Linked DNA regions of Homo sapiens. The protein of the gene in region 4 purifies or fractionates together with the protein of the main gene of each other region. This does not show direct contact. Each region holds a gene or a part of one and is shown on either strand. Other genes may lie near its edges.

Evidence for each region.
Region 1: the proteins of ZBTB3 (region 4) and SMYD2 purify together in Homo sapiens (affinity purification with mass spectrometry, with the first as the bait; one large-scale study listed by BioGRID). This does not show direct contact.
Region 2: the proteins of ZBTB3 (region 4) and AHCYL2 purify together in Homo sapiens (affinity purification with mass spectrometry, with the first as the bait; one large-scale study listed by BioGRID). This does not show direct contact.
Region 3: the proteins of ZBTB3 (region 4) and KLHL23 purify together in Homo sapiens (affinity purification with mass spectrometry, with the first as the bait; one large-scale study listed by BioGRID). This does not show direct contact.
Region 5: the proteins of ZBTB3 (region 4) and ZNF131 purify together in Homo sapiens (affinity purification with mass spectrometry; 2 studies listed by BioGRID). This does not show direct contact.
Region 6: the proteins of ZBTB3 (region 4) and KLHL21 purify together in Homo sapiens (affinity purification with mass spectrometry, with the first as the bait; one large-scale study listed by BioGRID). This does not show direct contact.
Region 7: the proteins of ZBTB3 (region 4) and VWA8 purify together in Homo sapiens (affinity purification with mass spectrometry, with the first as the bait; one large-scale study listed by BioGRID). This does not show direct contact.

What each region holds. Positions count from the first base shown.
Region 1 is NC_000001.11:214,284,159-214,287,658, reverse strand, and holds part of SMYD2 (N-lysine methyltransferase SMYD2), read right to left. Parts: intron 1-3,500. UniProt on the Homo sapiens protein: Protein-lysine N-methyltransferase that methylates both histones and non-histone proteins, including p53/TP53 and RB1. Specifically trimethylates histone H3 'Lys-4' (H3K4me3) in vivo. The activity requires interaction with HSP90alpha.
Region 2 is NC_000007.14:129,424,030-129,427,370, reverse strand, and holds part of AHCYL2 (adenosylhomocysteinase 3), read right to left. Parts: intron 2,498-3,341; coding exon 2,429-2,497; intron 2,309-2,428; coding exon 2,230-2,308; intron 929-2,229; coding exon 808-928; intron 333-807; coding exon 326-332; 3' UTR 1-325. UniProt on the Homo sapiens protein: May regulate the electrogenic sodium/bicarbonate cotransporter SLC4A4 activity and Mg(2+)-sensitivity. On the contrary of its homolog AHCYL1, does not regulate ITPR1 sensitivity to inositol 1,4,5-trisphosphate.
Region 3 is NC_000002.12:169,740,332-169,743,831, reverse strand, and holds part of KLHL23 (kelch-like protein 23), read right to left. Parts: intron 2,448-3,500; coding exon 2,295-2,447; intron 1-2,294. Other genes in the region: PHOSPHO2-KLHL23 (kelch-like protein 23), read right to left, coding at 2,295-2,447.
Region 4 is NC_000011.10:62,751,361-62,755,603, forward strand, and holds the start of ZBTB3 (zinc finger and BTB domain-containing protein 3), read right to left. Parts: upstream 2,801-4,243; 5' UTR 2,604-2,800; intron 2,356-2,603; 5' UTR 2,305-2,355; coding exon 730-2,304; 3' UTR 1-729.
Region 5 is NC_000005.10:43,158,914-43,162,413, reverse strand, and holds part of ZNF131 (zinc finger protein 131), read right to left. Parts: intron 1,166-3,500; coding exon 483-1,165; intron 1-482. UniProt on the Homo sapiens protein: Plays a role during development and organogenesis as well as in the function of the adult central nervous system. May be involved in transcriptional regulation as a repressor of ESR1/ER-alpha signaling.
Region 6 is NC_000001.11:6,592,870-6,596,369, forward strand, and holds part of KLHL21 (kelch-like protein 21), read right to left. Parts: intron 2,689-3,500; coding exon 2,616-2,688; intron 1,242-2,615; coding exon of another isoform or gene 1,239-1,241; exon of another isoform or gene 790-1,238; coding exon 496-789; 3' UTR 1-495. UniProt on the Homo sapiens protein: Substrate-specific adapter of a BCR (BTB-CUL3-RBX1) E3 ubiquitin-protein ligase complex required for efficient chromosome alignment and cytokinesis.
Region 7 is NC_000013.11:41,566,335-41,569,722, forward strand, and holds the end of VWA8 (von Willebrand factor A domain-containing protein 8 isoform a precursor), read right to left. Parts: intron 2,062-3,388; exon of another isoform or gene 1,972-2,061; coding exon 1,863-1,971; 3' UTR 501-1,862; downstream 1-500. UniProt on the Homo sapiens protein: Exhibits ATPase activity in vitro.

The DNA.
Region 1 (3,500 bases), on a different chromosome or scaffold from region 4:
GAACCCAAGGTTGAGAACTGCTGGTTGTGGCTATGGGTCAACAGGCCATCTTTTTTTTTTTTTTTTTTTTTTGAGACATAGTCTAACTCTGTCTCCCAGGCTGGAGTACAGTGGCGCACTCTCAACTCGCCACAACCTCCACCTCCCGGGTTCAAGCGATTCTCCTGCCTCAGCCTCCCAAGTAGCTGGGATTACAGGCGCCCGCCACTATGCCCAGCTAATTTTTGAATTTTTAGTAGAGATGAGGTTTCACCATGTTGGTCAGGCTGGTCTCAAACTCCTGACCTCAGGTAATCCGCCCGCCTCGGCTTCCCAAACTGCTGGGATTACAGGCATGAGCCACCGCGCCCAGCCAATAGGCCAGCTTAATGGTGACTCCACTGGTCAACAATTTCCAGTATTTCCTTCCCAGTGTTCACCCCTCCCCACAACTCCATAAAAACGCCCCTAAAATTATAATATTTTATCACACAATTTAATTAAGTTAGAAACATTTAGCCAGCAGAGTTCATCAAACAAGTATGAGATCAGGCCAGGCGTGGTGGCTCATACCTGTAATCCCAGCACTTTGGGAGGCCAAGGCAGGTGGATCACCTGAGGTCAGGAGTTCAAGACCAGCCTGGCCAACATGGTGAAACACTGTTTCTACTAAAAATACAAAAATTAGCCAGGCATGGTGGTGCATGCCTGTAATCCCAGCTACTCACCAGGCTGAGGCAGGAGAATCACTTGAACAGCGGAGATTGTGCCATTGCACTCTAGCCTGGGTGACAGAGTGAGACTCCATCTCAAAAAAAAAAAAGAAGAGAGATCAGAGTGATTTTGATGGCTCACTATGTGCTAGGGTTGTACTGACTTAGCTTGGTTGGTAGGGTGGGTATTCATACGCTTTTTTTTTTTTTTTTTTTTGAGATGGAGGCTAGAGTGCAGTGGCGTGATCTCAGCTCACTGCAACCTCTGCCTCCTGGGTTCCTAGGTTCAAGCCATTCTCCTGCCTCAGCCTCCCAAGTAGTTGGGACTATACTACACCTGGCTAATTTTTGTATCTTCAGAGGAGACAGGGTTTCACTGTGTTGGCCAGGCTGGTCTCAAACTCCTGACCTCGAGTGATCCATCTGCCTCAGCCTCCCAGAGTGTTGGGATTACAGGTGTGAGCCACCATGCCCAGTCCACACTTTTTTATTTTTTTTAAGAGACAGGGTCTCACTTTGTCTTCCAGGCTGGAGTAAGTGATATGGCTTCCTGCAGCATCAACCTCCTGACTCAAGGGATCTTCCCACCTCAGCCTACCCAAGTGTAGCTAGGACTACAGGCCCAGGCTACCACAGCTGGCTAAACTAAATAAAATTTTTTTTGTAGCGAATGGGGTCTTGCTATGTTGCCCAGGCAGGTCTCAAAATCTTGGCTTCAAGCGATCCTCCCACCTCAGCCTACCAAGTCCTGGGATTAACGGCACTGGCATTAGTACGCACATTTTACAGATAAGGGAACCTGGGAGTTCAGAGAGGTTAAGTGATAACTGGCCTAAAGACAAACCATCAGGAAAGAATGAAACCAGAATTCAAACCCAGTCCACCTGCCACAAAGTCCCTGCTTTGCGGTTTCTACTGAAATAAGGTCATGCACTAACAACATTTTAGTCAATGACAGACCACGTGAACAAAGGTGGTCATAAGACTGTGATACCATATTCTCACTGTGCCTTTTCTATGTTTAGATATGTTTGGATACACAAATACTTACCATTGTGTTACAACTGCCTACAGTATTCAGTACAGTAACATGCTGTACAGGTTTGTAACCTAAGAGCAACAGGCTATACCATACAGCCTAGGTGAGTAGTAGACTCTCTCACGTAGCTTTGTGTAAGTACACTCTAGCATGCTGGCACAAGGACCAAACTGCTTTACTAAGGCAGTTCTTGGAACATATCCCTGTCATTAAGTTATGCATTAATGTACATGGAAACCTTGAAATACTGAAAGGTGGAAAGTGAAAACAGCCATTTCCTTACCTAACATACAGATAGCTGAATTTTGCATTCTTTAATGGCACTTTTTACAGGAAATCTGTTGTATGTATGTTTTAGTCTTACCACCTATTTTATAAAAATACATCTAAAAAAGAAGGGGAACCCCTTTATTAGAGCATGTATTCAATTTTTTTATTCAGAAAACATGATGATTTAAATACATCTGAAGCCATTTCTCCCCCAAAACAACTCTCAAAGCATTCTCAGGAGAGCCAGAGTCATAGCAGTCCTGGGCACAAGGTCCCCTTCTCATGCACAGCTTCAGGCAGCCAGAACCAGGGCTAGTTCAGAGAACTTCAGGAAAACAGCATCAGGATTTCATGGCCCTTAATACTGATTAAGATCAACTAAAAATTATTCTGCCGGTTTGATAAAACAAGAGGAAAGCTAAGATGAATACGCTAGAGAATAAATCTGGGGGACATGAGGAAAAAAAGCCTTTATAACTGCTGAAATAGGACACCTTAATCACAGGGTTTGGCTCAGGCAAACAATTTAATTTTTAAAACAACTAATCTAAGCCAGACATGACCGAAATTCACTGAAACTGGGTTCTAACAGCTCTATTCCAAGGAGGCTAAATGGGCTTTCCTGGTTCCCCCTACACTCAGAACAAACAAAGAAATGTCAATAATCTCATCCTTAAATAACCCATGAGCCAAGAGAACTAAAGATCAAAAGGGAGACTAAAGATCAAAAGATCTGCCTACCTGAAGAATGGCACATAGAATGAATATTTAGATGGAACACTGGGTTAAAGCAGATTTCTCTCCTTCTGAGACAAATCACATTGGGGGTTAAAATATGTCTAGGCCAGGCACGGTGGCTCACGCCTGTAATCCTAGCACTTTGAGAGGCTGAGGTGGGTGGATCACTTGAGGTCAGGAGTTCGAGACCAGCCTGGCCAACATGATGAAACCCTGTCTCTACTAAAAATACAAAAATTAGTCGGAAATCACTTGAACCCGGGAGGCGGAGGTTGCAGTGAGCCAAGATCGTGCCACTGCACTCCAGCCTGGGCAACAGAGTGAGACGAGACTGTTTCAAAAAAAAAAAAAAGTCTAAAACTTAGTTTAAAATACAACATACTTGGCCCGGCGCAGTGGCTCATGCCTGTAATCCCAGCACTTTGGGAGGCCGGGAGTTTGAGACCAGCCTGACCAACATGGAGAAACCCTGTCTCTACTAAAAATACAAAATTAGCCAGGTGTGGTGACGCATTCCTGTAATCCCAGCTACTCGGGAGGCTGAGGCAGAGGAATTGCTTGAACCGGGGAGGTGGAGGTTGTGGTGAGCTGAGATCACGCCACTGCACTCCAGCCTGGGCAACAAGAGCGAAACTCTGTCTCAAAAAAAAAAAAAAAAAAAAAAACCACACCAAAAAATGGTGATAAATGGCCAAAATGTGTATGTGTGCATTTATGTGTGTATGTGTGTATAAAGTGTATCTGAGAAGTCTGATAGGGAC
Region 2 (3,341 bases), on a different chromosome or scaffold from region 4:
CTGGACAAGAGGAAAAACGGCCACTGCTGAGGATTCAGTCAATGGGGAATGATGCAAATGATGCACTGGGAGCAGTAACCCCATTTCTTTCCTTCCTCAGCCCATCCTCTGTGGCTTTCATGGCCCTCAGGGCAGTAACCACACTCTGGGCCAACACTACAGGCACAGGATTCTTGATTTTAATAAATAAATAACCTAACACACAGGGTGAGCACGGCAGGCAGCTTTGATTGGAGAAGCAGCTTGCTGAATTCTTTCTTGTATAGTAGTGGAGAAAAGGCTTGGAGTTCTATTCCTTAAAAATTCTGGTTTGAGTTACAGGAACTTAATACCTGGAGGGAAAAAGAAAGATGAGACTGTGATGTTATCAGCTAATGGGGATGCTGGGACATGAAGAGCCTGCCTAAAGGTGTAACAGGGAGGCAGAGACTTTTCTGGAGTGTACAGTGACAGGAAATAACTGTGTTTCCTTTTCACATCATTGAAAAAGGCCAATATTTCTCCATAAAGAGATAAAAATCATAGCAACAAGATGAAATGGGGAAAGGAATTGAGGAAGGGGAACTTTATTTAATGAGGCAAATAGCCACTTACCCAAACTCCACCTCTCTATCTCCAAAAGGCAAATTCAGGAAGGGGAATACTATTTAAGGCCTTGAAGAGTCTTTTGAAGGTGGCAGTGAGGGGAAGTGGGTTCATTTTTCTGAGTTCATGTAAGCATATGTGGTTGGGGATGCAAAGACCAATTCCAGTGCAGGAAGCTCATCACTGCCCAGGTGTCCCTGATTTCTGGGGAGCCCAAGGCACCTGTAGTAATTAGGCTTGAAGGGCCCATTCTTGTTGAGTCCCAGATACTTGGCCTGTTCATCTGTCAGCTCTGTCAAGTGGGCATCAAAGGTAGGCAGGTGTAGGCTGGCCACATACTCATCTGGAACAGACCACAGAAGCCCTGGTATAAGCATTCATGCCTTTTATCTGATGGCTATTGTCCCCAAGCTAGGCCTTAAAAAGTTCAAAGACACCTTCTAATTCCTGGAGCTGAATGAAAAATGTTCAACCTTCGCTCACTGGTCCTCAATTCTAAGGAATAGCTGCCTTCAGCTTCAAGCCCAGTGCTTTCCAAAGCCTTAATAATTCATCCTTACTAACTCAGCTTTGAACCCTGCCTTCCAGAAAAGTGCAGGAGAGATGAAAGAAACAACAGGCATTAAGATTTAAAAGAAGGAATAGGATAATGTGGGAACTAAATAATGGGAAGCTCCAACTTGAGTTTTGCCTTGGACTCCATACTTTGGGTCATTTAAAACAACTAATGCCTGGGGAAACTTGAATGGAAAAACTAAGAAGGATACTAAATGGGATAAATGAACTGTTTGCTTTGCTTTTAGTACTCTTAATTCTTATGGGTTTCTGTTCACATTCTATTATCTGACTACATAGTACTTATTCATAATCTTATGTCATTTCCTATGTATTTGTTTGGTCTCCCAACTTCATTATACATTCTGTCAGAATATGGACTGTGCTGTTGCTTTTATATCCTTCTAAAGTGTCTACTAAAGGGAAAATGTATCAACTTTTAACAGTTGTTATATACCTAGTGCTAAGGCAAAACAAAACCAGAAGCTTATTTATTACCTGATCTTTGCCTGAGGAGTTTATAAACACACTGTATCAGTTCAGGTGCTTGAGGCAGGCTCTTTAAAAATTTAAGACAGGTTAATGTTTCTCTTATACAAAACACCCACATAACTAAATAGCTCCTATTCCACATCTCTCCTTTGGCCTGAAGCACTGGGATTGGTGTTGGAAGGTGTAGTAAGAAAGTCTTGTGTCGTCTGAGAAAAGTTTGGTAGGGGCTATTTGGCAGCCTAGAATTGGAGTAAGTCAGATGTCACAAGGTAGGAGATGATTCTTCTCTTTTAAGGGAAGATTTTTTTTTTCTCCTTTGAGATTCCCACATAAAGATACTTTAAGAAAAAAAAAATCCTTAAAATTCACAGGCAGGTAAAATAAATCACAGCATAATATCACAACTTCGCTAGGGCAACACATGTAGAAAATGGGATAAATAAATGGGAATGGCACCTAGGAATCCTAATTCCTACTTTACAAGATGAAGGTACCTTTTTTCCCCCATCCTTAAGTAAGTTAATGCCCCCAAACTTCCTTTAACCTCAGACTCTGAACTACTTTGGTAAGGATGGAGATGGAAGAGTAAATACTTACCCATCTTCTTGGGCAACAGGTAGACATCCTGCTTATAGCGACCCTCAGGAGCATTGTAAAGCTCTATCAAGGCAAGAGCCTAGAAAAGCAGAGAGATGGATGCTGATGTGCCATTCATGGCAATCTACCCAAGCAAGTGAAACCTGGTGGGTCTGAGGACCTTCTCCAGACTACTGCTATCCCACTCTGGAAGCCTTACCTGAGTAGTAGCAGTGATTGAGAGCACAAATGTAGGCACTGTGGAGCAGCTAAGGTTCAGCAGGCGGCCCTAGTGATCAAAGGTGAAGACACAAATGGATTAGGACAAAGTCGCTGGCCTTTGAGAAGTGAGGGAAGAGAAGCATGACCACCATTTTCCAAACACTTCCTGACTAACACTGCTGGAAAAAAAGCAGCTATTCAATATATAAGAACTAACTGACTGACATTTAAATGAAACCACTAAAATTCTGGAAAATCTGATGAAACTAATAGCTAAAAGATTTCTGGAATTATTTAAAAAGGAATACAGATGGTCATATGACACTGAGGCTTATGCCAAATATCAGTGTACTTCTCTTGAATTTTCCACTCTCTATAGCAAAATATCCTCCTTCTGAGGATCGGCATTTCTTTTAAAGACTGTCTTGAAATAAACAATGATCAGTCAAATCCAGGGACAATCTCTCCAGGTTGTGAGGGGAGGTATATTTGGACTTAGGAAGCTGTGATGATTGATTGATTGATTGATTGATTGATTGATTAGATGGAGTCTCCCTCTGTTGCCCAGGCTGGAGTTCCATGGCATGATCTTGACTCACTGTAACCTCTGCCCCCTGGGTTCAAGTGATTCTCCTGCCTCAGCCTCCAGAGTAACTGGGATCACAGGTGTGCGCCACCATGCCCGGCTAACTTTTGTATTTTTTTTTTTTTTTTTGTAGAGACAGGGTTTCACCATAGCTGTGATGATTTTTGTGCTTCTCCTTCAGTTTGCTTCTCCTGAATTCAAAGACAGCATTGTCAGCCTTGTATTTTGAGTTGGTGATTCAGACAGTAGAAGAACTAGAAATTGCCCCCAATGCCACCCTTTCCTATTTTGTTTCCTATGAAGCCTGACCACCTTTTTGCTCAAC
Region 3 (3,500 bases), on a different chromosome or scaffold from region 4:
AGCTTAAGGATTTAACAGACTAGCTGAGCAAAGCCAGCTGGGAGCAAGAAAAACAACGGCACAGGCCCCCTAGGTCAGTGACGTGAGGAGAATTGGAAGGACTGTGGTGAAACGGAGCACACAAGCCTCATTTAGGGGAACAGCTACCCCCTGGCTCCCGTGACTGCTGCCTAGAAGGAATACATCCAAGGCTGCTAGGTCTTCCCTTTTCTTTTAAAGGACAGAAATAATGATTTTTACTTGAAATTCTCTTAAATTTTAAATATTGGTAACAAGCCAGTTCAAAAATATTTTAAGGACTGTGAAAGCTAAACAGAACACATCATGCAAGGTACTGATTTAAAATCTGTTTTTTATGTTTCATCAGGAAAAAGTTCAATGTAAATCAAAACTACATGTGGATGCATATTATGTTACCATTGATTTATATTATAATTTAACATTTATTTTGGATTTTCAATTTGCCATGACTTATTAATACTTTGGATTAAGTCCAAAGTGACACTGTCTCTCAGACTCTTTTTCATGTAGTTAATAAGCTATATGAAATCTGTTATGGAAAACTTATTTTTGAGGGAAACTCTTAATGACATATACATTAAATTTATAATATAAATAACTGCCCTCTAATTTGTGAATTCTGACTTTTCATGTATCGGATTTTCTTTGTAAAGATAAGCTTATCCACAAAATAGGCAGAGTAACATCTAACTTCTAAGGGTAACATGAGGTTCAGGTGAGATAATAGTGAAGTTCAAGCCAGTCTGTCTAGGTTTGAACCTCAGTTCTAATAAGCACTAGCTGGCTAACCTTGGGCAATTTATATAATCTCTTTGACCCTCAGTGTCCTATAAAATGTGATAAAAACAGTACCTAGCTCATGGAATTATTTTGAGGTTTAAACAGATTATACATGTAAAATTACTGGAATAGTTTGTGCCTGCCACACACTGACTGAATAAATGCTAGCTATTTCTCACTGTGAGTTGTTACTATTCCTTTCCATTATAACTTCACTGATCACAGCAGAAAGTGGTGGGGAGTCTGGGATGGTCCATTTGGGCTACTAGGAGGGAGAAGTTTACCCATTCCATGGTGTCTTTGCAGCCAGGGAAGCCTGGGGCTAAAGTTCCTTCTCATGCAAAGCCTGGGCATATGGAGATGCAGCACCAGATTTAGGTGTGCTTCAGATTAACCATCATATGGGATAGATGATGTATGGGCTGGAAGTAGCTGCCTTGGTTGAAAGCAGGAGAGTCTGCTCCCTGAAGGAGAGACAGATTGTTTAGTGGCTACAGCACAAGTTATGGAATCAGACTGTCAGATTTTGAACCCTGGTCTACCACTTTCAAACTGTGAAACTGTGACCTTGGAAAAGTTACTTATTGTTTCTAAGCCTCCATTTCCAAATATGTAAAATGGTGACAAACAATACCTGCTCACAGACTTGTAGTGAGAATCTGAGGTAATACACATATGAAGTGCTTAGCCAGTGCCTGATCTATGGTAAGTATTACTAGTCCTCTCAGATGGTTCCAGCTTGTGAATTTCCACTACCCCCTCCACTGACCCACATGGAAGCCTGATGCTCTATGGAAAATGATTCAAGGTAACATGGTGGTACGATGATATGAATCTTTCCTAATGAAAACAACTTAAACCTATGGCATAACTGAAACAGACTAAAACTTGTGCTTCCCTCTGAGCTCTTCACAAAGACACAAGTCAAAGAACAGAAGACATCCAAGAAGGTAGGCCATTCCTTATGGGCAGACAGCATGTTCCCTGTATGAGTGTTAAGGTAAGGCCAACATATGGCTCTGCACATTGTAGGAGTGAGTGCTTAATAGTAAGTGAAACCTAGAAAGAACATGCTTCTAAAACAGGAAACAATTTCTAGCTGAACTTCAATCACTGGGTACCCTTTCTGACTATTTGATAGAATGGTGCTTTTCAACTACTTATGAACATTGTATTTTATATAATTAATGTCATAAATGAAAGATGGCATATAAAGGAAAAAAATTTTAAAGACGCTAATATTTTTGACCACACAGACTTACAATGTGCATTGTATAAAGACATCAGGGAAAATATTTGTAGATGTGACCCAATCAGAATCTCATTGTGATTATTGTTAGATGGACATATATGAATATTTTGAGACTTTTAATTCTACCCATGTGTAGTCTACAATAAAATCAGCATTTTCTATTTCCAGTCCATTTTTAGCCATCCTTTATGCTACTAAACTACATCACAACATACACTATTTGAGACAGTATTTTTGTTACCTGGATGTGGACTGGAGGTGATGAGGCTCCATTCGTTGATATCGGAATTGTAGCTCTGAACTTTGTCATAGGTGCAGCTTCCTCTGTAGCCACAGTGGCCACCAATGACGTAGATAACATCATGTAAGACACAGGCAGTAGCATTTCCCACACCTACGTATTAATTAAAATCACATCTTTAGATTGATCTTTTGTTCTTTTTTGCAGTGAACCCTGGGCTAAATTTATTGTTGTTTTTGTTATTACTGATGGTAAAATGCAAGGTACTGTGCTAAGTGCTATAAGGGACAAAAGAATAAAAAAGGAAGGCTCTTTGTGCTCTTAAGAGAGGGTGAGACGTGCACACAAACACAGCCATGCACCACGCACAATGATCTCCATAAAATTATAATGGAGTGGAAAATGTCCTATCACCTAGTGATACTGTGGTAGCTGTTTTAAAGACATGGCATAAAGCATTCTCATGTGTTTCTGGTGATGCTGTTGTAAATAAATCTACGCCTCTGGCAGGTCCTTCAAGAGGTATTCCAGAAGAAGGCATTATTATCATAGGAGAGGATAGCTCTATGCCTGTTATTGCCCTTGAAAGCCTGCAAGTGGGACAAGATGTGGAGGTGGAAGACAGTGATATTGATGACTCTGACATTGATGATCCTGACCCTGTATAGGCCTCAGCTAATGTGTATGTCTGTGTCTTACTTTTTTAACAAAAAAGTTTAACGAGTAAAAAAATCAATAAATAAGTTATATATATATATATATATATATATAATATAAAAAAGCTTATAGAGGCCGGGCGCAGTGGCTCACGCCTGTAATCCCAGCACTTTGGGAGGTCAAGGTGGGTGGATCACGAGGTCAGGAGATTGAGACCATCCTGGCTAACACGGTGAAACCCCGTCTCTACTAAAAATACAAAAAATTAGCAGGACGTGGTGGTGGGCGCCTGTAGTCCTAGCTACTCGGGAGGCTGAGGCAGGAGAATGGCGTGAACCCAGGAGACTGAGCTTGCAGTGAGCCAAGACAGTGCCACTGCACTCCAGCCTGGGTGACAGAGCGAGACTCCGTCTCAAAAAAAAAAAAAGCTTATAGAATAAGGATAAAAAGAAAGTATTTTTATAAGCTATATAAAGTCTACAGTAATGCCTGTAATTCCAGAAGTTTAGGAGGCTGAGGCAGGGGATCACTTGAGCCCAGGAGGAGTTT
Region 4 (4,243 bases):
TGGGAGGCTGAGGCGGGTGGATCACGAGGTCAGGAGATCGAGACCATCCTGACTAACACGGTGAAACCCCGTCTCTACTAAAAAATACAAAAAATTAGGCGGGCGTGGTGGGCCAAGATCGCGCCACTGCACTCCAGCCTGGGGGACAGAGTGAGACTCTGTCTCAAAAAAAAAAAAAAAAAAAGGAATCGCTTGAACCTGGGAGGCAGAGGTTGCAGTGAGCTGAAATTGCGCCACTGCACTCCAGCCTCAGTGACAGAGCAAGACTCAAAAAAAAAAAGGCAGCTGGGCGCGGTGGCTCATGCCTGTAATCCCAGCACTGCGGGAGGTGGAGATGGGCGGATCACGAGGTCAGATCTGTCAGAAGATCGAGACCATCCTGGCTAACACGGTGAAACCCTGTCTCTACTAAAAATCAAAAAAAATTAGCCAGGCATGGTGATAGGCGCCTGTAGTCCCAGCTACTCGGGAGGCTGAGGCAGGAGAATGGCGTGAATCGGGGAGGCTGAGCTTGCAGTGAGCCGAGATCGCGCCACTGCACTCCAGTCTGGGTGACAGAGTGAGACTCTGTCTCAAAAAAATAAAAGATTAAAAAAAAAAAAGGGTAGGAACTTTCAGCCTGGGCAGAGCCTTTATTCTTGTCACCCAGCAGGGGTGATAAGGTGCCACCAACCTTCTGAGCTGCCATCTAAGGATGGTAAGAGCAGCCTAGCATCAGCTCATGCTCCCTTAGATGTTAGTTTTTGGGGCCAATACAAAATCTTTAGGTGGCCCTCCACCACTGCTGCTCTGTCTGTCTGCTGTTGGGGAGCCAGGGAGAGGCTGCACCCCTAGAAGGGGTCCCACTTCTGGATCTGGTTTGCTGCGTTTGGCCAGGTCCTCATTGTGAGCCTTGCGGATGTGGCGGTAGAGGTCCCCTGACTGCGTGTAGCTCCGCAGGCAGTAGCGGCACTCATAGGGTCGCTCACGTGTGTGCACCGTGGCATGTCGCCGTAGTGTGTAAGAGCATGAGAAGGTCTTCCCACATGTCTTGCAGGTGGGAACATCCTCAGTAAAAACCCCAAAGCTTCCTGGAGCTGCTTCGTACTCAGAAGACAGGTAAAGTGGCTCATGCAGGGATGCGGGTGCAGGCAGAGGTGAGGTCACCAGTCCTCGATGATACTGCCCTGCACCTGGCAGCAGATGGTAGGGTAGATGAGGGTCTGTTGGCAGGAAGTGGTCACTTGGCCCCACCTCCTCCAGTCCTGCTGCCCCTGGGTCTTCAAAAGCCTCTGGCTGGGAGGGCTGTGCCCCATACACTGCTCCTCCAGATGGGAAAGCTCTCTCAGGACCCTGAGGCTGTTCATCTGACACATCAGTCTCTTCATCAGAGATCACAATAGCTTCAACTTTCACCTGGACCAGCTCAGCTTCAGCTGGGGCTGGAGCCTGGGATGGAACTGGAGCTGAGACAGGGGCTGGGGCTGACGTTGGGGCTGAGGCTGGGGGATAGAAGCCTTGCAGTGGTCCTCCAGGATCCTTTGGTTCCACCACCCTCAGACTCTCAGGACCCACATCAAGAGATGGCAGTGGCTCCAATGAAACTGCTGAGATGCCAGAAGAGAAGTAGTTTGTAGGAATGGTCTCAGTGGAGCTACTAGGGCTGGCAAGAGAGACATCAGCCACTGGTGGATGAGGTGCCCGCAGATGTGGTGCGTCAACCTCCATGCCAGGCTGTGTAGTGTCAGCCCCACTAGACATTGGTGGCTCATCTGGAGGACGGACAGTAGGTGAGGGAGCAGCAGAGCCTTTCCATTCCCCTTTGCCCCAGTGGCCTGATGTCTCAGCAGATGCCAACGAAGGTTGGGTGCCACGGGAAGTACTAGACAAAAACTCCAAACTAGGAAGCTGTGAGTTGGTTTCCTCCTCCTTCTTGGTACTGTCTGCCTCTGCCAGGGCCCGGGCTTGAAGCCGCCGCTTACACACCTTGACGATGTCATTCATGTGCAAGTAGCTGGCAGCTGCCAGCACATCCTCCACAGGGGTATCCCCTCTCAGGGTCAGCTGGCCAGCATACATAAAGTCCAGAAGCAGCCCAAAGGCTGGGGCTGTGACAATTTCATTGTGAATACACACCAGATCCCTCTTGTCCAATTCCCGCTCCTTGTAGAAAAGCTGGAAGAATGGGCTGCAGGAGGCCAGCACAGCCCGATGGGCCAAGAACTGGGTACTACCCACCATCACGGTGCAGTCACAAAGGAAACCCTGGGACCGCTGCTCCCGGAGGCTCTGCAGCAGCTGCTGACTGTGTTCTGGGAACTCCATAGTACCCCACGAAGGAAAGGGGGCCCAAAAAAGGTCCCCACCAGTGGCTCCCTGAGAAAAAAGGGCAGTGAGTTAAGACAGGTAACCTCCCCAGCAACCTTATCAGCCCTTAACTATCACTTGCCACTCCAAAACAATCGCTTAAGTTACTGCCCTTCTTTCTCCTAGGTCACACCCAAAGCTCTCCCATTAGCTCCGCCCACCTCGGCCTAACCTTAGAACAGGCCCCACCCCCGTCCGATAAGCCCTGCCCCCGGAAGTCCCGCCCCTTAGCCACCCTCCGCTTCCTTGATGCCCACCCGGTAGCGTCCAACGGCTCCACGAAGTAGAGATCTTTTTCGCTCCCAGGCCTTGCCAGGCGATGCCTCTACGCCCCACTTCGAGAACTCCCTAAGCATCTCCCTCACGCATTCCAGGGGCTAAGGACTACCAGGGTGGGAACTAGCGGAGAAAGCTGATACCTCACCCACCACCGAGCAGCCACAGGGCGAGCTCCGCCCCTTCCCACCTTCTCAGCTTTAATTGGCTTAAGATTGCCCTCCCCTGTCACGGATTGGTCCGCTCTCCACTAACCATCCTCCCTCTAACTGCCGTCTACAATTGGGTGCTCGCCGCCATCGCTTTTGCAGTCAGGCGTTGGATTGGGTGACGCTCCTGTCCTCAACTTTTCCTCTTCGTCCCGCCTTCCTTGCCTCCGAGCCCTCAGGATTGGCTGAGCTTCTCCTTCTACCTAATCCAGCAGGCAGGAGGTACCCGGCTCCGAGTCGCTGAACGCGGCGCTCTCCTGGCGAGGCTGGAGGTCGGGAACCCTGCAGTGTCGGACCCGAGCTGACAGCAAGCCACTCCCGCTACAGGCTGACAGGGAAAAAGAGAACCAACTAGGCCAGGCGCAGTGCTTCACGCCTGTAATCCCAGGACTCTGGGAGGCCGAGGAGGGCGGATCACTTGGGGTCAGGAGTTCGATACCAGCCTGGCCAACATGCTGAAACCCCGTCTCTACTAAAAATACAAAAATTAGCAGGTCTTGGGGGCGCGCGCCTGTAATCCCAGCTACTGGGGAGGCTGAAGCAGGAGAATCACTTGAACCCGGGAGGCGGAGGTTGCAGTGAGTCAAGATCGTGCCACTGCACTCCAGCCTGGGCGACAGAGTAAGACCCTATCCCCCCACCCCCCCAAAAAAAGAGAACCAACTGGTGACTGTGGGCAATAGCCCCACGTCCCTGAACTGCGTTTGTCTCTTGAAGGTCCCTTCCTCTCAAAAATTCTAAGATTTGCCGGGTTCGGTGGCTCACGCCTTTAATCCCAGCAGTTTGGGAGGCTGAGACGGGCAGATCACTTGAGGTCCGGAGTTCAAGAGCAGCCTGGCCAACATAGTGAAACCCCATCTCTACTAAAAATACAAAAATCAGCTGGGCATGGTGGCGCGTGCCTGAAATCCCAGCTTCTAGGGAGGCTGAGGCAGGAGAATCTCTTGAACCCAGGAGGCAGAGGTTGCAGTGAGCCAAGATAGCGCCACTGCACTCCAGCCTGGGAGACAGAGCAAAACTCCATCTAAAACAAACAAACAAAAAAACATTTTAAGATGCCCTACTGCTCCACTCCTCCAAGCTAAGTTTCCGGGGCTCCCGGCTCAGTGATGGCATGAAAGAACTAGCAGCTACAGGGATGATGTCGTGGTGTCCCTAGCCTGGACTCTACAGTCAATTTACAGTGAGAGGATAGAGTGTTCTTTGTTTCCAGAGCGTGCTGAGCAGGTGCTGGTAGGAAGGGTAAGAATGGGGTCAGGATCATAAAATGTCCCAGGACAGGAGAGAAGAAGCAAAAACCGTGTCTACTGAAGAAATCTTTGAGAGTCTCTACACACCCAGAGGAAAAGGCTATAAGTTGGGAGTCACTGATAACTGCCCCGTCTGACCCAGGTAGTGTTACTAGAGGAGTA
Region 5 (3,500 bases), on a different chromosome or scaffold from region 4:
CACCATGTTGGCCAGGCTGGTCTCGAACACCTGACCTCAGGTGATCCGCCTGCCTCGGCCTCCCAAAGTGCTGGGATTACAGGCATGAGCCACCGCGCCTGGCTGTCAGGGATTGCTTGTAAATGTACTGTAAGTAACACGACACAAGAAATGTAAAAATAGAAATGGTAAAGTCTCACTATAAGATTTAATTATTTACGATCTTTAGGAAATAAGTCACAAACTATTTTCTCTATTTCTTTGAAAAATATAAAAATTGGGCAAGGCATAAAAGTAACAATTACTTCCAAAGTTGATACTGATTTGCATTTAAAGCACCAATATTTGAACAGGTAATACTATAAAAACGTGTACTTAGCCTACACATTAGAGATAATACATGAGATGGCTTCTGAGGCACTATTTTTTTAAAAAGGATTTAGATACTTAAATTTGAAGTGCATGTGGGAAAAAAAAATTTTAACAAAGTATTTGCTCATTACCTGTATGTTTTCGAAGATGTTCTTTAAAATGTCCAAAATGGTCAAACTGTTTCTCACAGTACTGACATACATGAATTTTTTTCCCAGTTCTTTGCTTCTTACTGACTCCACCTTCTTCAAGGTGGTAACAATTTAGGTGCTGTTTCCATGCGCTCTCTCGAAGATATCGTTTATTGCATATTTCACACTTGAAACTCTCAGTGGAGTGTGATTTCATGTGCTCCTTAAAATGGTAAAACAATTTAAATGAACGGTTACATTTCTCACAATGGAACAAGTCCTTCACATGTGACAGCTGAAGTTCCACAATTTCAATACCTTCTACCTGTTTGCTCGTGGGGTCAGATGGACAGCCATCTTCTTTAATCTGCCCTTTTCTGTCACCTTGACGGTACTTGCTGGTAATATCTGCCAACAGTGCTAGAGCAGAATCATCAGAGGAACCTGTGCTCTGTATGTACTTTACGGACTGCTTGGCAGAAGCCACTTCCTCTAATGTTTCGATGCCTTCATCTTCCACTTCAATGGTGCCTTCGGCAATCTCTACCTCAATTTCAACAGGTTCTGATTCTGCAGATGGCAATGACTCAGTGATAACATTTGAAGTTTCTGCAATCTTCCTTTTTTTGGCCTCATTTTTTCCTGTGGTATTTTCCTCTAAGGGAGCTGAGTTTTCTTTGTTCCTGAAATACATAATGTAGGGGTTTAAAAAATCTATAAGAAGATCCTACCAGGCTTTTTTGAAGAAACTGATAAAGTGGCAATAAAATTTATATAAACAGTTATAAAACAAGACTGCAGGGCTTATCCTACCTGATTTCAAGACTTAAAGCTACAGTAATTAAGACAATAGTACTGGTGAAAGCATAGACACGAAGATTAATGGAATAAAGTCCATGGAAATAGACCCACGCTTAGTCAACTGATTTTTATGGGGGAAAAAAAGGTGCCAGTCAGGTGCAGTGGCTCATGCCTGTAATCGCAACACTTTGGGAGGCCAAGGCAGGTGGATCACCTGAGGTTGGGAGTTTGAGACCAGCCTGACTAACATGGGGAAATCTCGTCTCTACTAAAAATACAAAATTAGCTGGGCATGGTGGCATGCCTGTAATCCCAGCTACTCGGCAGGCTGAGGCAGGAGAATCACTTGAACCCAGGAGGCGGAGGTTGGGGTGAGCCAAGATCGCACCATTGCACTCCAGCCTGGGCGACAAGAGCGAAACTCTGTCTCAAAAAAAAAAAAAAAAAAAAAAGTTCCAAGCTAATCATTTAACAGTGATGCTAGAACAATTATGTGTATGGGAAAAATAAGCCTCAACCTTTACCTCATATCATACATGAAAAATTAATTCAAAATGGGTCACAGACCTAAATTTAAGAATTAGTAAATTTCTAGAAGAAAACAGGAGAAGACCTTAGTGACATTGGTTAGTGAAAGATTTCTCATTCTCTCACCCAGGCTGGAGTGCAGTGGTGTGATGTTGGCTCACTGTGGCTTCAACCTCTTGGGCTCAAGTGATCCTCCCACCTCAGCCTCTCAAGCAGCTGGGACTATAGATGCGTGCCATCACACTCAGCTAATTTTATTTTTGATAGAATCGAGGTCTCACTATGTCACCCAGGGTGGTCTTGAACTCCTGGGCTCAAGTGATCCTCCTGCCTCGGCCTCCCAGAGTACTAGGATTACAGACATGAGCTACTGTGCCCAGCTGACAGATTTCTTCTTTTTTTGTTTTTTTTTTTGTTTTGTTTTTTTGAGATGGAGTCTCGCTCTGTCACCCAGGCTGGAGTGCAGTGGCGTGATCTTGGCTCACTGTAAGCTCCGCCTCCCAGGTTCACGCCATTCTCCTGCCTCAGCCTCCCAAGCAGCTGGGACTACAGGCGCCCGCCACCACGACCAGCTAATATTTTGTATTTTTAGTAGAGATGGGGTTTCACCGTGTTAGCCAGGATGGTCTCGATTTCCTGACCTTGTGATCTGCCCGCCTTGGCCTCCCCCAAAGTGCTGGGATTACAGGCGTGGGCCACCGCGCCCAGCCTGCCCAGCTGAAAGATTTCTTAAACAGCATAAGAAAGGCAGAAATCATAACAGCAAAAATTGATAAAATAGATTTCATCAAAATTAAAAACTGCCCTCTGAAATACAGTTAATAAAAAAGCAAGCCACAGGCCAGAAGAAAATAGTTGCAAACATTTATCTGTCAAATTTTTTGTTTGGTTTTTTTTTTTTTTTTTTGAGACAGAGTATCTCTCTTGTGGCCCAGGCTGGAGTGCAGTGGCACGATCTTGGCTCACTGCAACCTCTGCCTCCCGGGTTCAAGTGATTCTCCTGCCTCAGCCTCCTGAGTAGCTGGGATTACAGGCTCCTGCCACCATGCCCGCCTAATTTTTGTATTTTTTAGTAGAGACGGGGTCTCACCATGTTGGCCAGGGTGGTCTTGAACTACTGACCTCAGGTGATCTGCCCACCTCGGCCTCCCAAAGTGCTGGAATTACCGGTAAGAGCCACTGTGCCCAGCCTAAAGATCTTATATCTAGAGTGAAGAAAGGATTCTCACAACTCAGTAAACTCAGTAAAAGACGACACCTGTTGGGAGACAATTCTCCTTGAGTCTCTTCAGTTTCCTCACATCTTGTGAACTGAAAACTTTCGGTTTGGATGTTTGCAGTATAGTATAGTAGATGAAAGGGCAGGTTTATTGTCCAATATAATAAAGAGAATGCCCCCACTCTGGAAAAAACGTTAGGCAGGTTTGTTTGTAGCCCACTATAAAAATTTTGAGATTCCTAAGCTGGAGATTCTTCAGCTATAATATAAATCAATCTTATGCATTCACCTGGGCCACTCTATGTCACTCTTGTGGGACTTGAGGGGAAGGGAAAACTGGTATAAAAATGAAATTTATACTGCTTGCTATGTAGAGAGTAATAAGGTCCTTTCTTTCTGACTCAGAAGTCTTCTATCTTCTTCCAGCATCCATGACACTGTGGCAGGAAAACTTGTAGGCTTGCAAGTAG
Region 6 (3,500 bases), on a different chromosome or scaffold from region 4:
AGGGAGGCAGGCTCCCCACACCTCTGGACATGGAATTTGGGACCCCACTTCAGCCCGTCTGCCTGGTCCGCTGCTCCAGGTTCAGGCCATCCTCAGCCTCATGGGAGGACCCCTTCTCCCTTCACGCGTCCCTCCCAAGTCATCGTCCTCTCCCAAGGTGGGAACAAGTAGGTGCAGATGACAACGGCAGGAGGGGTGTGCGCCGCGTGGGTGAGCTGTGATCCGCGGGGTGGGGGTGACCTCCAAGACCCAGAAACATGTGCTGGCAGGAAAGTGGCTCTTCCTCAACTGCAGGGAGGGCGTTCCCGACGGCCTCTGATTCAGGCTCTCAAGGTACAGAAACCTTCCAGGTAATGGATCCTGGGCTGGCTTCGCCACCCAAGAGCCTGTGCTCCTCCTGTGAGCCCAACGTGTCCTTGTGCACAAAGGAGTGGGGCACTGCCCCGCAGAGGTGCCAGTTACCTGCACCGAGGCCCGTGCCGGGCCAGACTGGGGCTAGTGCAGCTCATCGGGGTCCCGCGGCGGCCGGGGTCGGCCTGGGTCCATGTCATCGCTGCCACTGTCCAACTCGAAGCCACGCCCACCCGAGAAGGTCTGGGGCATGAACTGGCGGAAGATGCTGACACTGCCATGCCAGAAGGTGGGTTCTGGGAGCCGCCCCACCACGCTCCACGCGCGAGTCTCTGGGTCATAGGCCTCTACCACGTCCGAGAGTTCAAATGTATTGTCGTATCCCCCAGAGACGTACAGCTTCCCCCCAAGGACGGCCAGGCTGCCCCCCACATGTACCTGTGGGCCAAAGGGATGAGTGAGTGGAGGTCAGAGGAGAGGGTAGGGCAGGGCCCCACCTGGGGAACCACTGGAGACAAGGCATGCCCTGTCAGTACCCCAGAGGGGTGGCCTTGGCTCTCCCAGAAAGCAGCAGAGAGGCCAACCCCTTTCCAACACCCTGCCTAGGAGAACGGGCCTCCCCGGAGGCAGCTGGGCCTTCCCTATGGTGATGAGGGTGCCCGCTGCAGCGCCAGGCCTCCCCGTGTGCAGGTCGTGCCGAGCAGCGCTTCCTACGTTCTCTCTCAGAATCTCTGCAGTGGCCCTCTGGGCTGAGCAGTGCTGTTCTCCCCATGTTACAGATGGGAAAACTGAGGCTTGCATGGCTGACAGTGGCAGAGCTGGGCTCTGAACCGCGAGGCTGGATGATTCCTTCCATCTTTCCCAAATTCGCTATGACTATGTGCAGCTTACTGCGGGGAAAACAGAACGCTGGGTCTCTTAAATGCCAGGACATTAAGCTGTGATGTAAGCTGTGAGGCTGGATGTCACGGAGTGTAGGTTTGGAAATGTTAACAGACACACAGGAAAGAAGGCTGTAGGCAATATGATGTGTACCTCAGACTAACACTGCTCACATGGCCAAATGGCACTGAAGCCTCCCTGTCCCATCACTGTCAGGCTGGGCACCCCTCTTCTCAACAAGCCCAGAGAGAAGGGGTGGACCCTGGTTGTCCTATTCAGAACACACAGCAAGTGCTCAACACAAGTATTCCCACAGTGGGCTGGGCATGGTGGCTCATGCCTGTAATCCCAGCACTTTGGGAGGCTGAGCCAGGCAGATCACAAGGTCAGGAGATCCAGACCATCCTGGCTAACACAGTGAAATCCCGTCTCTACTAAAAATACACAAACAAAATTAGCTGGGCGTGGTGGTGGGTACCTGTAGTCCCAGCTACTCGGGAGGTTGAGGCGGGAGAATGGCGTGAACCTGGGAGATGGAGCTTGCAGTGAGCCGAGATCGTGCCACTGCACTCCAGCCTGGGTGACAGAGCGAGACTCCGTATAAAAAAAAAAAAAGTATTCCCACACTGACTTCCTCAGGAACCAGCTGGGCGTGGTGGTTCACGCCTATAATCCTAGCACTTTGGGAGGCTGAGACAGGAGGGTCACTTGAGGCCAGGAGTGTGAGACCAGCCTGGGTAACACAGCAAGACCCTGTCTCTATAAAAATTTTAAGAATATCCTTTTGTATCTACATATGAGAAAAAAAATTACTGGGTGTGGTGGCACACGCCTGTAGTCTCAGCTATTCAGGAAGGTGCGGTGGGAGGACTGCGAGTCAAGGAGGTGGAGGCTGCAGTGAGCCATGATTGTACCACTGCACTCCAGCCTGGGTGACAGAGCAAGACCCTGTCTCAAAAATAAAAAAGGTAGGTCACAGACCTCATGCTGACTCTGCTCCGGCCACATGGGCTGCTGGTGTATCTAAGAACACGCCAGGGTGCCCTGCTGCAGGGCCTCTGTACCTGCTGTCCCTCTCTGGAACAGGTGTCCCCAGATGACTGTATGCCTTGCTCCCTCACTTCCTTCTGCTCTCTGGCTCACAGCAGATACTCAATAAACACTGCTCAAATGTGTACTAAGCTGTGTAATCATAGGGTATTACTTAACATCTGTGTCTCAGTGAGCCTTAAGTGCAAAATAAGGGTAAGAGCAGCCTTCTATTAATTGAGATGAGACCCACCCATCATGGCTGTGGATCCCAAACACTCATCACGATGACACTTGGGTTGCAAAATCAGGACCAGCCTGTGCTTCCAATGCTGGCCCGCCTGAAAATTTACCTGATTCATGGACGGGATCTTGTCCCATTCGTTCCTCGTCGGGTTGTACACGTCCACCTCAGCGGAGTCATCCCTGTGGAGGGGGCAGCAGGAGGACAACTGCTCAGAGCGAGGAGGAAGTGCACACATGCAGGGCTGGAGCAGAGTCCTCCCCTGGGTCACTGACTCCTCCAGTGACCTGGATCTTTCTGATGCCATCCAGCAGCACCCTTGCCAGGTAGGCTCCATCCCCAGCTCTTAGGAGCCAATTTCAGCCCCCTGTGCCCACTCAGCCAGGGCTCCAGGGCCAGAACTCTCACTCCCAAACCTGAAGATCAGGCTTTTGAGTACTTGAAGCCCATTCAGTGCCTCCCCATCACCCAGTACCAAGGTGGCTGTCCCCCACCCCCCAAGCCTACAGTAGCTCCCTTGAGATCTTAAAGAAGCCTCCTTGCTCCACTGTGCATCCCCACAGGCCCTGGAACACTCCTTGCCACTGTCCCCAATATCACTATGAGCCCCCAACCCTGTCCTGTTCACTACTATGTTGAAGTACCCCTCACTTTGGGGTCAAGACCCTTCAACTTCATCTGACACCCTTTATATCCCCACAGTAAAAGGCTCAAAGGCACAGCCTTGAAAAGCAAAGATGCAGGCCAGGCACTGTGGCTCACGCCTGTAATGCAGCACTTTGGGAGGCCGAGGCTGGTGGAGTGCCTGAGGTCAGGAGTTCGAGACCAGTCTGGCCAACACGATGAAACCCCGTCTCTAGTGAAAATACAAAAATTAGCCAGGTGTGGTGGCATGTGCCTGTAATACCAGCTGCTCAGGAGGCTGAGGTAGGAAAATCGCTTGAACCCGGGTGGCTGAGGCAGGAGAATCTCTTGAACCCGGGAGGCGGAGATT
Region 7 (3,388 bases), on a different chromosome or scaffold from region 4:
GGGCGTGGGACTGCGAGGGACGCAAAGGCATTAAGGGGCCTGGAGGCTGGAGGCCCAGCTTTGCCCCTGCCTGGCTGTGAGTGTGGCCTATTTTCTTGAACTTCTCTAAGCCTCAGTTTCTTTACTTGTAAAATGAGGATGTTAATGGTACCATGAATAGTTAGTGAAAGGTCTAGTAACAGGAATCTTGGGAAAGTGACTTAAATTCTCTGAGCCTCACTTTCTTTATCATCTGCAAAATAAGGTAAAAAATACCCCTGTTACATGCATTGTTGTAAGGATGAATGAAATAATGTATGCAATCACTTAGCATATACCTGGTTCACAGTAAATCATCAGTAAATGCTAGCTGCTGTTGTGGCGACCGTTGGAATGCAATTACATTTTTAAAGATACATGTTGGATTGAAATTGTTTGCATCATTGAATGGTTCAATACATGGAGCAGGTGTCTCACTAGAGGAACAAGAAAGCCATGCAAACTCACCAGGTAGTACCACGTTGGAAATCAGATTGCTTTTATTTATTTATTTGATAGTTAATGATAGGGAGAGGGGTGATAGAACAAATGGGTATTATCTTTTCTTCTTTCCTATAATTAATTAAAATGAAATTATGGACCTGTACAATTTCAATAGATATGGATGGATAGGATAATATTATTAATAATAGTTTTTCCAACTTAAGACCAGTTTTTTCAACTCACTGGTGCCCTAACGTTTCTGATTTTGCTATCAATCGTGAAGAGGAGTTTTTAAATTATATGGTTAAAGAGAGAATGACTTTTGCTGAAGCATCTTATTTTAAACAAAGTAATATTGAGCTTATTGATAAAATAAAGGTCAGCCCAAGAGTGTGTGGGAATAAGGTACATTTTGAAAGAAAAGAGAATGAGGCTTTAAAAAAAGTTGTTTTCTTTCTTTTTGTTACAGCTAAAAATTTCCAATCACCATTCACTTCAAATATACCACCTTGATTTTACTTTTTTTACTTTGCTTTAGGTAATTTTTATATGAATATTCTCAATAAATAATTTTCGTGTAAGCATTTATTATTTTGAGCATTACAGTTTGGACCCCAAAATGGAGTACTGTGAATTTTTTGAGAGATGCTAGAAGAACAGAAGAAACAGTAAACTTTTAAGGCAAGACATCTTTCTCCTCCCACTCTAGCAGCAAGGAGAAGAGGACATTTGCTCTTTAAGAGCCTTTTAAAAGTCACGTGGAAAGGCAAGCACTCCAAGGATTTTTTGATTCCTTTTGGCTTTGGCCAAGAAAATGAAATTATTGAGAACAGCCAGACTTTCATAAGATATTGCTGTTGGAGGGACTTTTTGGTGGGTTAAATATTATAAAATCATTGTTTTCTGGTCAATACAGAGCAGGGAGAAAATAAAAATAATTGTTGGATAGGAGCATTTTGGTGGGTTTTGCACAGACTTGCATCTTGTGTCAGAATGTGACATCAAAGGCTCAGTTTGATGGGGTCACTTTTCTAACGTGACCAGATGATGTGTTAAGGCAAAAGCAAAGTATTTTCTCCCCCTCAGGTTTTTGGAAATAGACCAAACACATAGTTCTCAAAACCACCTTCCTTTAACCCCAACCTTTGATAAAGTGCAGGTCAACTAGCTTGCCCTAATCACTTCTAAACTCATCAGTGGAGTATCTTTCCATGTTTAAGTCTCCTTCTGGCTGCTTCTCTGAATTCTCATTACGGAGCAAGTGTAGGAAGACCCAGGAATGCCGGAATCATCCAGTCACTGCATGGGTTCACTTCATCCATATCTTCTTTTTTTCAGAATACTCTTTATTCCTGTCTTATTTCAAATCCTGGTGTCATCAGGGTGATGAAGGGCACTTCTTAGACACTCGACAACATGGTGGAGGTGAAGATCTGTTGTAAAATCTGAGGGATATCCTTGGTATCCATGGCAACGAAAGACCGACCAGCTGGTAAAGTTCTCTGAAGCCTGCCAGGATGGAAAGGGAAAGGAAGTTACCACTGTAAATGGGGCTCCCTTCCACCTCCTGCCCTGGCAAACCACAGCCCCCTAATGGTTTCTTAGGAAAGGAAGTTTTTACTTTCTAATACCTTGCTCTCTGCCTACCATTGAATTAGTCGTCATTAAACAATGAAAGGCTTGGAAGAGCAACAAGGAAAGACACAGCAAAAGCAGGGAACTGAAAGAAAGGTCTTTTCAGTGAGAAAGTCAGTGAATTTGAAAAGAAAAAATTTTCTTCCTTTCTTTACTGCCATTTCTTGGTATTTCATATTCTTTTGGTATAACAGAGCCATAGGGATTCATATGGAATCAGCTCACCTCCCGGGTCTAGCAAATATGTTGACCTTACACTGTATTTCGAAGTGCTTTTCCTTCCTTAGAAAACAGGCCTCTAAAAACGCTGCGCAGCCAAACCCTGAGTGGTTCTTTCTCTCTTTCTTTGCCTCTCTCTCTTTTTTTTGGTCCACATCACACAATGTGAAATGCGATCTGGATTGTCCAATTACTGCTTCAATGACACTGAGGTTATACAGGCTTATGAAATTTTTTCCAACTCATTTTTAAGTGAATTTTAAAAAACTTATAATGGGTTTTGATTTGAATTATCCTTAAAAATAACATGTCATTGAAGTTACGATACTTTTTTAAATACTAATTTATAATTTGGAACAAAAGGCCATTTTGAAGGCAACAAAACTGTAAGACACAGTTCTCTTCAAAAGAACGCCTCCTTTCACTGTGCCAGTGAAGTCTGGCTTTGGAATGACATTTAATAAAATTCAACCATCCTGTGTAGTATCGTATATTTGGCATGCCTGGTAAGCCAGCTAATTCTGCAACATATCTTTTGCCAGTGGATGTTGGACCATTTCCCTAGGAAACCACAAGGGTATTATTGTGCTTTCTTAAGTATTCAAACAGGATCTGTTCACTAGAAAGACAAAATAGCCATTTCATCTCAACTAGTATTTGTTGAGCTTGTTGTCTGCCTAATACTGGGCTGATGCTGAGGAAAACCTGGGTGGAAAAGGCATAGTTTGTGTTTGAGGATGTGGAGGTTCTAAAAGATGCAAAGTGCTAACTTGTAAAAACTAAGAAGAATGAAAAGTCATGTCATAAAATGACTGTAACTACATGATATTAAGTCTGTTCTCAACCTCGCTCTGCAACCTTACAGCAAGGCAAAGGGAATAGAAAGAGAAAAAGCTGCTAGCATTTTGGATATTAAAACATTTCCAGTCACAGAGTATGAAAAGTAAAAGGGGTGGAATAACAAAAACGTAGGCCCTTTGTGCTTTAGGCAGGGATTTTTTTTTTTTTTTTTAAGATTACTTTCACTGGTGTTTTATGTTTCTTACAGGTATTTTAAACACAGAAAAACCAT